Regions from separate parts of the Homo sapiens genome. Here region 1 is linked to region 2. Evidence: fine-mapped expression QTL. A gene starts in region 2. The other region holds a variant in brackets. All regions are shown on one strand. Distances are from middle to middle.

Region 1 (4,395 bases), 54 kb before region 2:
CAGAACCAGACCATGGTGGGCATATTCCACCCATCTGTGCCTTATATCCCTCATTTGCAGGATAAAGATAGTAAGAATATCTGCTCTCATAGAATATGGAGATTAAGTGATACAATGTATGTAATCCCAGCACCTAAGGAGGCTGAGGCGGGCGGATCACAAGGTCAGGAGTTCAAGACCAGCCTGGCCAACATGGTGAAACCCCATCTCTACTAAAAATACAAAAATTAGCTGGGTGTGGTGGTATGTGCCTGTCATCCCAGCTACTCGGGAGGCTGAGGCAGGAGAATTGCTTGAACCAGGACCTAGGAGGCAGAGGTTGCACTGTGAGCCGAGATCCAGCCACTGCACTCCAGCCTGGGCTACAGAGGGAGACTCTGTCTCAAAACAAAACAAAACAAAACAAATAATATGCAAATAGTAGATTGAACCGTAAGTATCTGACAGGTAAACACTTAGTGATATGGTTTGGCTCTGTGTCCCCACCCAAATCTCATCTTGAATTGTACTGTCATAATTCCCACATGTTGTCGGAGGGAGGTGGTAAGAGAGAATTTGAATCATGTGGGCAGTTTCCCCCATACTGTTCTCGTGGTAGTGAATAAGTTTTACGAGATCTGATGGTTTTATCTGGGGTTTCCTCTTTTGCATCTTTCTCATTTTCTCTTGCCACCCCTATGTAAGCAGTACCTTTTACCTCCCGCCATGATTCTGAGGCTTCCCTAGTCATGTGGAACTGTGAGTTCAGTTAAACCTCTTTTTCTTCCGAGTCCTGGTATTTCTTTATCAGCAGCGTGAAAACAGACTAATGCACTCAGTAAATGTTAACAATTATTGTTATTCCTTTTTCTTCCATCACTTCTTTCATAAATTAACAATAATCAAGCAACAAGTGTACATTGTCTTCCTCCCAGTTATAAGACATTGCTGGGTTCACAAATAAATAGACAAAGTCTCTCTACTATAGAAAGGTTCAAAACAATTGGTAAGATAAATCATAAATAAGTGATGATTTAGCAAATATAAGAGAAAATAAATTATCAGTTTCCAAATAAATATTGCAGAGCGTGTACATCAAAGAAATTCAGAAGGGGGAGAAGTAACTCTGGAATGATGTGATCTGGAAGTTTTTACAGAGGAGGAGCAATTTGGATAGGCACAAAAAGTGTAGGTGGGCCGGGCGCGGTGGCTCATGCCTGTAATCCCAGCACTTTGGGAGCCTGGGGTGGGTGGATCACCTAAGGCTGGGAGTTTGAGACCAGCCTGACCTATATGGTGAAACCCCGTCTCTACTAAAAGTACAAAATTAGCCAGGTGTGGTGGTGCACACCTGTAATCCCAGCTACTCGGGAGGCTGAAGCAGGAAAATCGCTTGAACTCAGGAGGCGGAGGTTGTAGTGAGCTGAGATTGCGCCACTGCACTCCAGCCTAGACAACAAGAGTGACGCTCCATCTCAAAAAAAAAAAGAAAAGAAAAAAAAGTGTAGGTGGAGGTAAAAACAGTGGGGAGGGAGAGCGAGGATTATAATGTCAGACAGGGAACGTGATGAGACTAAAAGCGTGGAGGCAAGAAAGTGCAGGGTGTGTTTGAGGAACAGGAAATCACTGTTGGTGGGAAAGTACTTCACTGGCGAGTGTTTAGTGAGGAAAAAGGGTGGTTAGAGTTATTTTAGGGGGAAATTTGTTGGCATATGGACATTTTTGTTAGAGCTATCTTACAAGTGAAGTTGAAAAAACATGACCGGTAACATTTTAGTCGTGGGTGAGAAAGAAAAATAGCTCAGAGCATTCTGAGGAATGTCAGATATGCAAAATTTATCAGGCCCAGAAAGATGCGAGCATGAGACTTCAGTCATTTGCCCCCCATCCCTGCA[C/T]CCACGTTTAGGGACAATTGTTTAAAGGCACTTTATTCTTTCTTTCCTCCTGGTAGTTTCCAAACTAGCTGATAAATTATCTAAAATGTCACTGCAAGTTGCACCATGTGACTGTCACTACTGTCTTCATGTTTCTGGAATTTGTGATACAAAGAAAAATGTACAGGCAATCACTAATCAATGTTATTTTTGTAAACCAATGAGAATCCCTGTCAAGCAAGTTTGTAATAGCTACTTCCTGTCCCCTTTTTTTTGCCTATAAAAGCCTTCTTGTAACAAAGGCTCATATTTAAGGTTACTTGGGTCTGAGTCTTCCAGGCAGCTGTTCTTATCTTGGCTCTAGTAAACTCTTTTTTTTTTTTTTTTTTTTTTTTGAGATGGAGTCTCACTCTGTGGCTCAGGCTGGAGTGCAATGGCACCATCTCGGCTCACTGCAACCTCTGCTTCCTAAGCTCAAGTAATTCTCCTGCATCAGCCTCCAGAGTAGCTGGGATTATAGATGTGAGCCACCAACCTGGCTAATTTTTGCATTTTTAGTAGAGATGAGATTTCACCATGTTGGCTAGGCTGGTCTCAAACTCCTGGCCTCAAGTGATCCACCTGCCTCAGCCTCCCAAAATGTTGGGATTACAGGCATGAGCCACTGCACCTGGCTGAGCAAACTCCTTAAAATTATATTTTGTGCCCCAGTTTCTTCCCTTAGGTTGACAGGGGTACACATTTAATTCTTCTCTAGCATTGCATGGCCATTGTACTGGTTCATTTTATGTGTCAACTTGACTAGGTTAAAGGATGCCCAAGTAGCTGCTAAAACATTATTTCTGGGTATGTCTGTGAGGGTGTTTTTGGAAGAGATTAGCCTTTGAGTTGGTTGACTGAGTAAGGAAGACTGTGCTCACCAGTGTAGGTGAGTATGGTCTGATCCCATGAGGGCCCAGATAGAAACACAAAGATGGAGAAAAGGTGATTTGAAAAAAAGAAAACCCAAATTTTAGACAATATTAATTTAACAGAGTTTATTTGAGTAAAGGATAATTCATGAATCAGACATCACTTAAAACCAGAAGAGGTATAGAACGCTCTGCTACAGCAGGGTGGGCAGAGAGCTTTTGTAGGTGGACACACGAGTAAGACAAAGAAAATATACTTGATTGGTTAGAATGGAAAGACCTTGGTTAGAGGGCAGCTGCAGTTTCGATTGGTAAAGTCTCTATTTTCATTTTACTGTTTATGTTGGGCTTAGGTAGACACTAGAACTACCTCAGTCTAACCACCTCCCTGTTAAGAATTTTTCAGCAGGGTGAATTCACTCTTCTTGAGCTGGGACATCCATCTTCTCCTGCCCTTGGGCATTGGTGCTCTTGATTCCTGCACTTTCAGACTTGACCAGGATTTCCACCATTGGCCCACCCCCACATTCTCAGGTCTTCAGACTTGGACTGGGATTTAAACCGTTGGCATCTCTGGTTCTCAGGCCTTTGAGTTTATCCTGGAATGACACCTCCAGTTTTCCTGGGCATCCTGCTTGCAGAGGGCAGATCACAGGCCTTCTCAGCCTCCATAATCATGTGAGCCAATCCCTCATGCTCAATCTCTTTCTATATATCTATACATACCTTATTAGCTCTGTTTCTCTGAAGAACTCTGCCTGATACAGTCATAATATGTTCTTTAACATTGTATTAGTCCGTTTCCATGGTGCTGATAAAGACATACCTGAAATTGGGTAATTTGTAAAGGAAAAGAGGTTTAATGGACTCACAGTTCAACATGACTGGGGAGGCCTCACAATCATGGTGGTAGGTGAAAGGCACATTTTACATGGTGGCAGGCAAGAGATAATGAGAGAGAAGTGAAAGGGGAAGCCCCTTATAAAGCCATCTGATATCGTGAGACTTACTCACTATCACAAGAACAGTATGGGGGAAACTGCACCAATGATTCAGTTATCTCCCACCAGGTCCCTCCCACAACATGTGGGAATTATGGGAGCTATAATTCAAGATGAGATTTGGGTGGGGACACAGCCAAACCATATCAAACATGAATGTAATCAAAATAGTAGAAGGCCATGGGCATATGCCAAACTCTTCACAGGGAACCCCTTTATACCTTCTCTCCCAGCTTTTAAAACAGCACTTCAAGCCAAACAGCTATCATGCAGCATTTACCTGGTATCATGCAGTGTAAAACCTGCTTTTATAGACTGCTCATTCTTTGCACTGTCCATTTTAAGCCCATGAGACATACTCATTGACCTGGCAGAAGAAAATATTCAGCCTTGGATTGATAGATAAGTACTTATATTATATTAAATGTAATTATCTATTAAATCACATCTACTGTTGTCACAGTTTATCATTTTTTGGGGGTGTGATGATGCTGAAATATTATGGAACAACTAGAGTAATTTACATATTCTTTACTTTGGTCACATTTTTCATTGAAGCCATCAAAATACTTAAAAATAATTTTCACTCTTTAGTATCAAATTATCTCATGTAGATTGACTGTTTCAATA
Region 2 (4,395 bases):
AATAGGTCATCAGCTTTGGTCCTATAACTTGTCACCACCAACTACAACAGTCTACCTCTACCTTCTGCCACGTGTGCCTCTCCAGCTCGGTTATGAGGGAAGAACTGTTCCTCCTCTGCCAGGATGAACCATCTTGTGCATGCTTCGTATACTCCTTGGTTCTAGGCAGGCAGCTTCTGAATTGGCCTTCAGCAATCCCCATCTCCTCCTATTTATGCCCTTCTGCAATCTCCTTACTTAGAGTGTGGGACTATTGACTTGCTTCTAATGAGAAGAATATGGCAAAAATGATAGGCTGTCACTTCCAAGATCAGGTTATAGAAGACTGTCACTTTCATCTTGCTTGTACTCTGTCACCAGCTGGCTCTGATGAAGCACCTCCCATGTTGCAAGCTGCCTTATGGAGAGGTCCTTATGGCAAGGAACTCAGGGCAGCCTTGGGCTGACAAGAACAATAAACAGAGGTCCTCAATTCAATAGCCCACGAGGAGTTTGCGTCCTGCCAACAACCATCTAGGGTGGCTGAATGTACATCCTTTGCCAGTTAAGCCTTGAGATGATGGTAGCCTCAGGTGACACCTTGATTTCAGCCTGTGAGAGACCCTGAGCCAGCAGGCCCGCCTAAGTGGCACCCAGATTCCTGGCACACAGACCTACGAGATAATAAATGTTGACTTAAATCAACTTGTTTTACACATCAATAGATACCTAACAGATCTGAAAGTTTTCACACCTATATTTGATCCTCGATTCAGGATGAATACCTGCAGAAATACAGCTTGCTTTCTATCTCTAAAGTGGTGCTGTCCAATAAAATATATAATGAGCCACAAATGTGAACCATATATTTTTCAGCCACATTAAAAAAAGTAAAAAGAAACAGGTGAAATTAATTTAAATAATGTATTTTATTTCATCCATATGTCAAAACTACATTGTTTAATTATGTAATTCATATACCACATGATTAAAGAGATAATTTAGATATATATTTTTTGGACTGAGTCTTTGAAAACCCATGTTTATATTACACTGGCAGACATCTCCATTCAGACTAGCCACCCAATGGACCACCTGTGGCTAGCAGCTACCATACTGGACAGCTCAGCTTGAAAGAGAAAAACCTGGCCAGGCGCAATGGCTCACGCCTGTAATCCAGCACTTTGGGAAGCCGAGGCAGGAGGATCAACTGAGGTCAGGAGTTCGAGACCAGCCTGGCCAACATAGTGAAACCCCATCTCTACTAAAAACACAAAAATTAGCTGGGCGTGGTGGTGCATGCCTGTAGTCCCATCTACTCCGGGAAGAGGCTGAGGCAGGAGTATTGCTTGAACCCAGGAGGAGGAGGTTGCAGTGAGCTGAGGTCGTACCACTGCACTCCAGCCTGGGCGACAAGAACGAAATTCCGTCTCAAAAACAAACAAAACCTCAGTTTGCTCAAAAAACAATTTCTCTTCAAACATTTTTTTTCTGTTTTATTTATTTATTTTTTTGAGAAAGAGTCTAGCTCTGTCACCCAGGCTGGAGTGCAGTGGCGCCATCTCAGCTCACTTCAATCTGCCACCTGGGTTCAAGCGATTCTCCTGTCTCAGCCTCCCAAAGGTCTGGGATTACAGGCGCATGCCACCACACCCAACTAATTTTGTGTTTTTATTACAGACAGGGTTTCACCATGTTGGCCAGCCTGGATTCGAGCTCCTGACTTCAGGTGATCTGCCCGCCCTGGCCTCCAAAAGTGCTGGAATTACAGGCGTGAGCCACTGCACCTGCCTTTTTTTTTTTTTTTCTGTTTTAAAAAAGGTCTCTTTTGCTGGGCACAGTGGCTCACACCTGTAATCCTAGCACATTGGGGAGGCCAAGGCGGGAGGATCACTTGAGTCCATGAGCTAGAGACCAGTCTGGGCAACATAGTGAGACCCCATCTCGAAAGAAAGAAAGGAAGAAAGGAGGGAGGGAGGGAAGGAAGGAAGGAAAGAAGGAAGGAAGGAAGAAGGGAAAAGTATCTTTTGAGAATTTTCCAACCAGTTGAATTTGCTTCTGTGGCCTCCCCGGGTGCCCTGTAGCCGTGTGGACAAAACCAGCATGGCGTCGAGGGAAGCGCTAGTCCCCTAAACCCCACATGGTCTCCAGAGGCTGGCTTCTGGGAAATGCCTCATTCTGTTGGTGTGCGGGTTTCCCACTATAGTCACTGTGCCCAAGCTCCCCCACGCCTGCTCTCTCAGCACAGGTCTGCCCTGCCCTTGGTTGTCGGGAGCTCTGCCATTTCCCCATCGGTTTCCCCCTAGTTCCGCTGATTCCCCGGGACTTGGAAGACTCCTCCACTGGCTCTCAGCTTTGGGCTGTCCTTCCTGTGCCTCTGCTACGGGGTCTCCTGGCCCCACACTTTGGTGACCCTCGGCAGGCATACAACTTACTAATTTTCTGTTCTTTTCCTCCTCAGGGCCTATGAGAAATTTTCTGGGTCTTCTGCAGGCCTCACTGGAAATGAGGGGGCCTGGGGTGGGGACCTCCCAGCCCTTCTGCGCTTGGCCCCCGCCCCATCCTGTTCTTCTGGAGCTGCTCCGTGTTGGGCAGGCAGTCTGGGAAGCTGCCTCGCCTTAGGATTCCAAATGGAAACAGCTTTCTGCCTTTGGATTCTCATACATATGATGGAGATTTCTTTCCTACCCCTCACATCCATCAGCCTGGATTATCAACCACGGTCTCTCCTTTTCCCCCAACCTGCTGAAACAATCAGCAGTATCTGATTTTTTTTTCTCTTTCCAGGCTCTTAACTACAGCAAAATAAGAAACTGAAACAAGCAAACAAAAAGGCGTGGGCAGTGTTAATTCCTTTCGCCAGTGTTAGGAGCTATCCTGCAGCCTTCCTTATTCCAATGTTAACTGAGACAGACTCTTTGCCTAGGTATCCAACCTCTGTCTTCATCTTCCTATCAAAGCCCGCTTAGTTTTGAGAGCAATACTTTTCCCTCAACTAGTTCTAAGCTTTTGCTAGTTTAAAAGCACTTTGGTGTAAGATCAACATGAAAGTCATGTTAAAAAGAAAAATCATCATTCACCACTTCAACTGACCCCATGTGTTGTTAGTCTGGGCCTGACCCCCCAATGAATGTCACTGAGCTAGTGGGAGAAGAGAAGCATACCTCATTAAAAGTATGTAAAGATATTATTCTCTCCCTCTGCCACCCTGGCATAGCCCCCAATGCAGTCTATCCCTTTCTGCAGGATTTTTTTTTAGACCGAGTTTCACTCTTGTCACCCAGGCTGGAGTGCAGTGGCATGATCTTGGCTCACTGCAACCTCTACCTCCCAGGTTCAAGTGATTCTCCTGCCTCAGCCTCCCAACTAGCTGGAATTACAGGTGTGCACCACCATGCCTGGTTAATTTTGTAGTTTTAGTAGAGATGGAGTTTCATCATGTTGGCCAAGCTGGTCTGGAACTCCTGACCTCAGGTGATCTGCCCCCCTAGGCCTCCTAAATTGCTGGGATTACAGGCATAAGCCACCACACCTGGCCATTTTTAAAATTATTATTATTATTTTTGAGACAAGATCTCACTCTGTCACCCAAGCTGGAGTGCAGTGGTGCGATCTCGGCTCACTGCAGCTTCAACCTCCCAGGTTCAAGAGATTGTCCCACCTCAGTCTCCCAAGTAGCTGAGATTACAGGCACGCACCACCACACCCAGCTAATTTATATATTTTTCTGTAGAGACAGCGTTTCACCATGTTGGCCAAGCTGGTCTGGAACTCCTGACCTCAAGTGATCCATCCGCTTCAGCCTCCCAAAGTGCTGGAATGACCAGAGTGAGCCACCGTGCCTGACCTCTGCAGGATTATTTACCACTAGCTTGAAAACAGGCTGCAGCAGGAATGGCCACATTCTGTAATAAAACTCTCCCTTTTCTCCCTAGATTTCTGGTTTTGTAGAGAGAGGTATGCCCAAGTACATTTTCTCACATCCTTTGCAGAGAGATGAGGCCGATGAGAAACAAATCCAAATCACTAGTGTTGCTTCTGGGAAAGCTATCTTAAAAATGATTACTCAGCTGGTAGCTGCCTTTTGCTGTCTCCCTCCTTTTGCATTTTTTCCTTATTTGGAATGTAGAAAGTGATGGCTGGAACTAGCAACCATCATGTGATCATGAGGCATCCTTGAGAATTGAAGCCTGGTGCTAAAAATGAGGTGACAGGGTAGAAGGAGTACAATATTGATGTCTAATGTCAGCTTAGATAGCCTAGATTTATTACCACAGGCCCTGGGATATCTATCTCTACATGTCATGTTATGTGAGAAAAATGAACTCTTGTCTGGTTGAAGCAATATTTCCATTTCTAGTAGTCAAATTCCTATCCTAGGCATGCTTACTTTAACTTCACTTTTACTGTTTCCAA

The links. PIP is the estimated chance that this variant, and not a neighbour inherited with it, causes the effect. A credible set is the group of variants that fine-mapping cannot tell apart.
Region 1: its variant is the best candidate, but not a certain one, in a credible set for the expression of LINC02111 in testis (GTEx, PIP 0.54).

Annotation. Positions count from the first base shown.
Region 1 is chr5:17,330,839-17,335,233 of GRCh38, forward strand. No RefSeq gene overlaps it. Among named protein-coding and RNA genes, the nearest start is that of LINC02111, 54 kb to the right of the region's middle. The variant C/T (reference allele first, on the strand shown) is at 1,875.
Region 2 is chr5:17,384,788-17,389,182 of GRCh38, forward strand. It overlaps LINC02111 (long intergenic non-protein coding RNA 2111), which reads right to left and starts at 2,523. Exons shown (of 3, transcript NR_033975.1): 1 at 2,415-2,523; 2 at 56-653.